Regions from separate parts of the Homo sapiens genome. Here region 2 is reported to be linked to region 1. Evidence: microRNA targets listed by miRTarBase, many of them from high-throughput screens and not tested one by one. Region 1 holds a microRNA gene; the other region holds the end of a gene's coding sequence.
What was found. The annotated mature microRNA hsa-miR-6759-3p reads UGACCUUUGCCUCUCCCCUCAG and lies in region 1 at 2,863-2,884, opposite strand. An mRNA with a match to its seed (bases 2 to 7 or 8) in the 3' UTR can be bound and repressed. Matches are read on the target gene's strand: a 7mer-m8 pairs with bases 2 to 8, a 7mer-A1 pairs with bases 2 to 7 and ends in A, and an 8mer does both.

Region 2: the mRNA of KLHL4 is a reported target of hsa-miR-6759-3p. Seed matches in the 3' UTR shown: 8mer at 3,782-3,789.

What each region holds. Positions count from the first base shown.
Region 1 is chr12:57,745,756-57,749,931 of GRCh38, forward strand. MIR6759 (microRNA 6759) reads right to left here and starts at 2,927; the gene lies at 2,863-2,927. TSPAN31 (tetraspanin 31) reads left to right here. Exons shown (of 6, transcript NM_005981.5): 2 at 1-157; 3 at 421-501; 4 at 834-965; 5 at 1,263-1,376; 6 at 1,461-4,176. The coding sequence ends at 1,535. CDK4 (cyclin dependent kinase 4) reads right to left here. Exons shown (of 8, transcript NM_000075.4): 6 at 3,699-3,749; 7 at 3,427-3,562; 8 at 1,972-2,862. The coding sequence ends at 2,770. RefSeq lists an enhancer at 15-94.
Region 2 is chrX:87,665,830-87,669,829 of GRCh38, forward strand. It overlaps KLHL4 (kelch like family member 4), which reads left to right. Exons shown (of 11, transcript NM_019117.5): 11 at 646-4,000. The coding sequence ends at 705. Among named protein-coding and RNA genes, the nearest start is that of KLHL4, 150 kb to the left of the region's middle.

The DNA of each region.
Region 1 (4,176 bases):
GTTGCTCATTGGAGTGGCTGCTTGGGGCAAGGGCCTGGGTCTGGTGTCCAGCATCCACATCATCGGCGGAGTCATTGCTGTGGGAGTCTTCCTTCTCCTTATTGCAGTGGCTGGACTGGTGGGTGCTGTCAACCACCACCAAGTCCTGCTGTTCTTTGTATCCTGACCTGAAGTGATGGGGGCAACCGGGGGCTTGGGAGGGCTGTCATCTAAGGAAGATGTTAGAAGGGTAGGGGACCTCAGGGATCTTGGACACGTCTCCTTGCCCTGCCCTGTCCCATAATCTACGAAACAAGAGCTGATTTTATTGCTTTCAATTTGACATGGTGGTGTAAGTTCTATGAACAGATGAGACCAGACAGTTATTATAGATGAAACATAAAGGAATCTAGGACTTTTTTCCATAACCTTTCCTCTCAGTACATGATCATCCTTGGTTTGGTCTTCATCTTCCAATTTGTAATCTCTTGCTCATGTCTGGCTATTAACCGAAGCAAACAGGTAAGACAGTACCCTTTCAAGTACTTACTTGCTTTTTAAAATTTTCCTCTTAACCTCGAACTCCTTCCTTAGTCTGGCCCCAACTACCCAAAGATCATCCTTAGGTGCACTGCTTCTGGCCTCTTGGGCTATTTGCTTCCTCTGGGATGTCTGGTTAATTTTCCATGAGGATGATCTAGAGAACCTCAAAAGGTAGATATTTATCGTGTCTATAATTGTTGCACACCGTTATGCTTCTGTTTGACTTCCTTTGCTGGGCTAGGGAAATTGAGGCACTTGAACTGATAACAGGATGTAGGGAGACTTAATTTCCCTCTACCCATATCTTTCAGACAGATGTCATCAATGCTTCTTGGTGGGTCATGAGCAACAAGACTCGGGATGAACTGGAAAGAAGTTTTGATTGTTGTGGCTTATTCAACCTCACAACCCTGTATCAACAAGATTATGATTTCTGCACTGCAGTGAGTGTGTTGGGGGTGGTGCAGCAGCCAGGGGAGGTAGGAAACTGGGTAAGGACAATGCCCAAGTTGGCAAATTTAGTTTGAATGTCATTGTTTCTCTCTCTACAAGCCCTCTTGTATTGGGGCTGTGTTGGTGGGAGGTGGGGGTGGATAGAGGCTGGGGAATTAGCCAAGTAGGATTTTAGTTTGTAGGACACTGGTCAGATAACAGTAAAGTTTCTAGGGACATTCGGCATAGGTATTAGTCACTAGCAACTTTACATTCACAACTTTGCATTCTTCACGTTTTATCCTCAGATCTGCAAGAGCCAGAGCCCCACATGCCAGATGTGTGGAGAAAAGTTTCTTAAGCATTCAGACGAAGCCCTGAAAATCCTAGGGGGTGTTGGACTCTTCTTTAGCTTTACAGAGGTAACATTCTCCAGTTCCCTCACACACATCCTTTTTGAGACTGAGAATTAATTGATACTTATCTCTCTCCCTTTGTTCCTACAGATCCTTGGTGTTTGGCTAGCAATGAGATTTCGGAATCAGAAGGATCCTAGAGCCAACCCCAGTGCCTTTCTATGAGACTTTGGATCCTTCTGACTTTTCTTCTGCTCTCTCTAAGCTTTCTCTTCCTCCCTTAGGGAATATCTAGGGTCTGTAACCGTTTTGGTTTGAGAAAAAGGAAAGGCCCCTTGTCACATCCTCTAAAATTGATGGAATAGCAAGACTTTATGCCTTGACATATTTTAGTGGGAGCCAGACTATAAGGAATAAAAGGAAAAACTTTCTTCCTCTCTCTCCAAGAGGATATGGGAAGCTTCTGTGAGTGCATAGGATGGGGGCTGGAGTCATTCTTAGCTGTTTCCCTTCCTCTGTCCATATACTGGATCACCTCAACATACCCTGGTGTGGCTCTAAGGGTAAATCAGGGATAGGGCCAAGGAGAAAACAACCAAGAACTCTTTCCTGTAATAAGCAGGATCCAGTTTGAGAAAGTTTAGCGAATATAAAAGTAAAAGCCATTTAAAAATCTATATTCTTTTTTTTTTTTTGACACAGAGTCTTGCTCTGTTGCCCAGGCTGGAGTGCAATGGCATGATCTCGGCTCACCGCAACCTCTGCCTCCCGGGTTCAAGCGATCCTCCTGCCTCAGTCTCCCAAGTAGCTGGGATTACAGGTGTGCACCACCACGCCTGACTAATTTTGTATTTTTAGTAGAGACAGGGTTTCACCATGTTAGTCAGGCTGGTCTCGAACTCCTGACCTCAGGTGATCCACCCGCGTTGGCCTCCCAACGTGCTGGGATTATAGGCGTGAGCCACCACGCCCCGCCTAAAATCCATATTCAAAGAAGCAATTTCAGTTCCTTTCTAAGCTTTGTCAGTCAAGGGGCTCCACTGACTTCCTAGGCCCTGTAATTTAACCAGTCTTTAAGGTTTTGCAGGAAAGTCCCTTCTTCCAAGTGGTTTTTCCAAATCGCACAATGGCAAAGCCAAACAGAGGAAGAAACATTAAAAAAAAAAAAAAGACCATTATTTCTTTGTTTTGTTTTTCCTGTATAAAAAAGGACCCCAAATATAAAGGTAGGGAAAGGGACAAGAGGGAACATACCCCTTAGTGTAGAGAAATGGGAAGGAGAAGGAGAAGCCTCAAAAGGAGAGGTGGGAGGGGAATGTCATTAAGGCAGCAAAGTAATCTCTGTAGAAAGATGGAGGAGGACCCTCCATAGCCTCAGAGATAAAGGCAAAGATTGCCCTCTCAGTGTCCAGAAGGGAAATGGCAGCTTTTCTTCCTTCCATGGCAGCCACTCCATTGCTCACTCCGGATTACCTTCATCCTTATGTAGATAAGAGTGCTGCAGAGCTCGAAAGGCAGAGATTCGCTTGTGTGGGTTAAAAGTCAGCATTTCCTGAGGGGAGAGGCAAAGGTCAGAAAACCATGAAGAAAACAGACTTCTGCCCACCCACAACAATACCTGGGATGAGCTTTCTTCTTTTTTCTTTTTTTTTTTTTTTGAGACGGAGTCTCGCTCTATCACCCAGGCTGGAGTGCAATGGTATGATCTCAGCTCACTGCAACCTCCGCCTCCTGAGTTGAAGTGATTCTCCTATCTCAGCCTCCCAAGTAGCTGAGATTACAGGCGTGTGCCACCACCCCCGGCTTATTTTTGTACTTTTAGTAGAGACGAGGTTTCACCATGTTGGCCAGGCTGGTCTCGAACTCCTGACCTCAGGTGATACGCCCACCTTGGCCTCCCAAAGTGCTGGGATTACAGGCGTGAGCCACCGTGCCCAGCCAGGATGGGTTCTCTTCTATATCCTTCTCTGTGGGTGGCTATTTGCAGCTGTAATAAAAACTACAGCCCATCTACCAACCAAGTTTCATTAACCACAGTGGCCAGGGCCCTGCATACTGCTCTATTTCTTTCCCCAGTCTCTATTTCTTTCCCTGTGCCCACAGCCATCTCCAGTACCAGCAGCAGCTGTGCTCCCGACTCCTCCATCTCAGGTACCACCGACTGCACTGGGCGGGGCCCTCTGGGGGGAAAGGCTCCACGGGGCAGGGATACATCTCGAGGCCAGTCATCCTCTGGAGGCAGCCCAATCAGGCTGTGGGGGACAGGAGAACTCTGGTCAGGAGGGTCCTCCAGTTCCCATCCCCATGGGCAGAGCCAGTTGCCATCCTGGGTTCAGCAGAAAGAGGACTCAGAATAGAAAATCTTTTTCTCCCATGTTGGTCACTTACTCAAAGATTTTGCCCAACTGGTCGGCTTCAGAGTTTCCACAGAAGAGAGGCCTAAGGTGAGAAGGGATATAAGGTAGCAGTCATTTTCAAAGATATCTTAGTTGAATGGTTACTGCTTAGTGGCTCAAAATAGGAAGTATAGGGAATAAAGGCCAACAATTCCAGCACTTTGGGATGCTGAGGTGAGAGGACTGCTTGAGCCCAGGAGTTCTAGATCAGCCTGGGCAAGCAAGACCTTGTCTCTTTTTTTAAAAAAAAAGAAATGCCAGGTGCAGCGGCTCACGCCTGTAATCCTAGCACTTTGGGAGTCTGATGTGGGTGGATCATGAGGTCAAGAGATCGAGACCATCCTGGCCAACATGGTGAAACCCTGTCATTACTAAAAGTACAAAAATTAGCTGAGCATGGTGGCGTGCACCTGTGGTCCCAGCTACTTGGGAGGCTGAGTCAAGAGAATTGCTTGAATCTGGGAGGTGGA
Region 2 (4,000 bases), not on the chromosome of region 1:
AGATTTTAATCTCTCTCCTCCAATAATCTGATTCATTAAGACTCAGAAACCCTCAAATGCTACAATGTAGGTAGCTGCTGTTTTGTCAATGCTTAGGACCAACCAGAAATCGAAGGAAAAAAAATATCATGCAAGGTGTTAGGACAAATACAATAATCAAGATGTTTGACCAGCTTACGGGATTTATTTTTCTGAAGATTGTAGACAAGTAGCTAAGAGTCCTGGATTATATTTTTGGCTGTGTCACTGTTTCATCGTGTGATCTTGAAAAGAGTGAAAGAGAACTAACAGATGGTGGGATTATAACTACTAAGTGCAAATTGTCATTCATTATTTCACTCAATCATCACAAAAACCTTGACGTGTTAGTATAATTTGGTGTAATTTTTCAAGTGAGAATATTATCAGAGAGATGAAATTTACTTAAGATCACCTGATCCTCAAACTCAGGTTTTTACCATTCTAAAGGCTATGTTTTTTCCAGCACACTACACTGTTTTCTAGGCTGCAGATTATCTCATCTTTAGACAAGGTGATGTTAGACCAAATTAAGTAAGGACTTCTTCAACTATATTGAATATAATATTTTATATTATGCTGAAATCAGAGTTCCAACAGTGTTTTGTTTCTTATTTTGTGTTTTAGGAAGTTCCTGTTAACATTGGAAGAGCTGGTGCATGTGTTGTAGTGGTGAAGCTACCCTAAAGCTATCTATCTTTATCAAATGGAATGAAACTAGATAATTTCAAGAAACTGAGTAGGACAAAGGGAGAAAGAAATACATGTTCTTTTTCCTGCAATTAATAATCAGACTGGAAAATTGTTGTATCATTTTAATTTGTAGTTACAATTGCTTTCATTCGTGAAGCCGAAACGTTTTTAAACATGAATTACATATGAATTATTAAGCATATGTGCTTTCGCAGCTGATAATATAAAAGGAAATCCCACAGTCTAGATATAGCCCCATTACTACAAAATGCTAAAATATTTAATGAAAATTGATGGTGGCCACAGTGTGCAGGTTATAAAAGCATTAATACATTTCAAGGTAAGAGCCTTAAAAGTTAAAAACATTTTCAGTTTTTTTTTAAAAAACGTACTCTTATTATCTGGAACATAGAAATATAAAAGGTAACATCTAAAGCTTAGAATAGTGTGATTTTTAGTAAGCCATTATTCTCCTATTCAAATAATATCCCAAAGAGCTAAACAATTCCTTACATTTACCAAGAGGAAAGCTTTTACTGTGTTGAAGCTAAAAAAATAATGGCTCTTTGACAAAACTTGTTATGTTGATCGCGGTATGTCAAAATTTTTACAGGTTTGCTCATCTGCCAGAGCACACATATAAATTTGGTATTTCTTAACATATTATCTTGTTAGATTTGTTACCAGTAAAATATTACTGTAATTTCATATACACAGTCTATACAATGAAATAATGAATATTTATCATATTGATACAAACTGTGACCTCAGCTTCAGAGTGTCAGGGCCTCACTTGTATAGAATGTAATGTTCTCCTCAAACATTTATGTTAACTCTATAAACAAATATCGTTAAGTTAAACAAGTTTTCAAAAACAAAACAATTTTTAAAGTACCTTAAAATTGAGGATGTTACTCAGTGTTAACACATGGGAACACCAAAATATTCAATAAGCCTGGTCAATTCTATAGTTATCTTTTTTGTACCAACACATGCTTTTCTGTTACTGTTATATTATCCAGTAGAAAATGTTAGGATATGTGTGCTATATAAAAAAAAAAAAAGACTTGTTAAGTTTTAAAATAACAAAAATGGCTAGTTGAATAGTATTTTATGTGTAATTCTTCCATTTATTCTGTTTAATTATACAACTAAGATGAAATATTGAAAAACCCTTTGTGAAAGTAACTTTTCAAGTAAATGCACAACTTTAGAATTTCTACAAATAAGTTCTTTTAAACAGTCTTTTTATTGTGGATTGTGAAATCAAAATCTGGAGAAATGCTTATAAAATATACTACTAGCTTTTAAGTTTTAAGAAAGAAGAACGTAAGTTGTACAAAGATATTTGTACTTTGACAAACTGAATTTAAATAAACTTTATTTCCTCTCACTATAGTGTGGCTTTAGAATATATCAAGTACAACCTGAATGGACTTTTTGATTTTACATTTCCTATATCACTAAAATACTTAAACACAAAAATAAAATTCCACTCCTTTATTTCTTCTTACACCTGCCATTGTCTCTAATTCTAAAGAGAGAGCTATAGATTTCTGCAGTTCTAGAGGTGAAGATAGAGACATAGAGAGGCTGTGAAACACACATACAGCCCTGTTAGGTCTTTTGAATTCACACCTTATTGAAATCAGTGTAGAAGTAGAGTTACCTAAACCTTTATCGCCAATGCACAGCTTGGCCTGTTAAGTTAAATGTGGGTGTCAACCAGTGGAAAAGATCAAAGGACCTTTTGCAGCCTAGCTTGCCAATCTTCCAGTAACAACGAGGTGCTACCAATAGGCAGACTGTGTCTAGAGTCATGCATGGACAAGAGGAAAGTGAAAGTTGAATACTCTCTTCTCAATGGCATAGCTGGACTTGATTAAGTATTGACTCATAGAAGAGACATGTATGTTTCCCGGGGCTACCCCTTCATAGCTGCATTTAAAAATGGTGTTCAGGCCACTATGGCTGCTGTGGTTTGAATATTTTTTTCCCTCGAAAACTCATGTTGAAACTTAACTCCTAATGTAGCAGTACTGAGAGGCAGGGCCCTTAAGAGGTGATTGGGCCATGAGGTCTGTGCCCTCCTGAATGGATTAATCCATTCATGGATTAATGGATTATTATGAGTGGGGGACTGGTGACTTTATATGAAAAGGAAGGAAGAGTGACCTAAGCTAGCATGCTCAGGGTGCACCGTATGTCCCCTGGTCATGTGATGCTATGTGTTACCTTGGGACTTACCTGACAGCTCTTACCAACAAGAAGGCCATCCCAGATATGGCCTCTCAACCTCAGACTTCTCAGCCTGCCTAACTGTAAGAAATTAATTCTTTTTCTTTATAAATTACCCAGGTTCTGTTTTAAGCCTCAGAAAATGAACTAAGACAATGCCCTAGATGAGCTGCCAAAATCTGAGCAGATATGAGCCATCAGAATAGAGACCTGCAGAGGCCCAGGGCACTCAAACATAACTGTGCTTGTCTCAGTCAAACTTAATTGGGAAAAGGAGGAGTAAGAGCAGGCCCTTTCTGACATGCTTTAGCAGAGATAACTTATCAGGGCTAGTTTAAACAAATGTGTATAGGAAAGGATGTTATTTATATATTCTTACAAGAGTGTAAGGGCTCACACATTTACTGTACTCAGATCTGAAAGACAATGTTGCTTCTTGATTTTTTTCTATAATCACTATGACCGTGTTCACGATTCCCTACTCTGCAACTCTCAGCATGCATCATGATGATTCTCTAACACTGTCTGTCACCTTCCTGTATTTCCACAGAGCATGCAAGAACTTCTACAAAACTTCTATACCACACAGAAGCTGAAAGAGACTCTGGGGCACTAAATTCAGATCCTTTCTCCACACAGCAATGACATTTATCAATCTGACTCAGGTGTGGCTGTTGCCCCTTTTTGATATGGAGGGAACACTGAAAGACAGTTTCCTTCTGGAGTTCCAAATGCAATATAGAAAAAAAAACCCTGTGACTCTGGATTTTATTTTAAGTTCTCTAACAAGACTCCTACCTTGAGATCTTAGTCTAGGTAAAGAAAAAAAAAAAAAGGTCATGAAACACAAATGTCCTCAACTGTCATCATTCTATGTTTACTTTCTCCCAATCACATCACCTGAGGTAGAAGAGATTTTTCAGTTGCTATTTCTCTTCGTAATGAATTTTCTTTACATCCTGTCCACACTGCTGGAGATACTAAGTCCCAACCTAAATGATGGAAGGAGCATCTCCCCTCTTGTCTGTGGAAGATATCACATGAACTACCT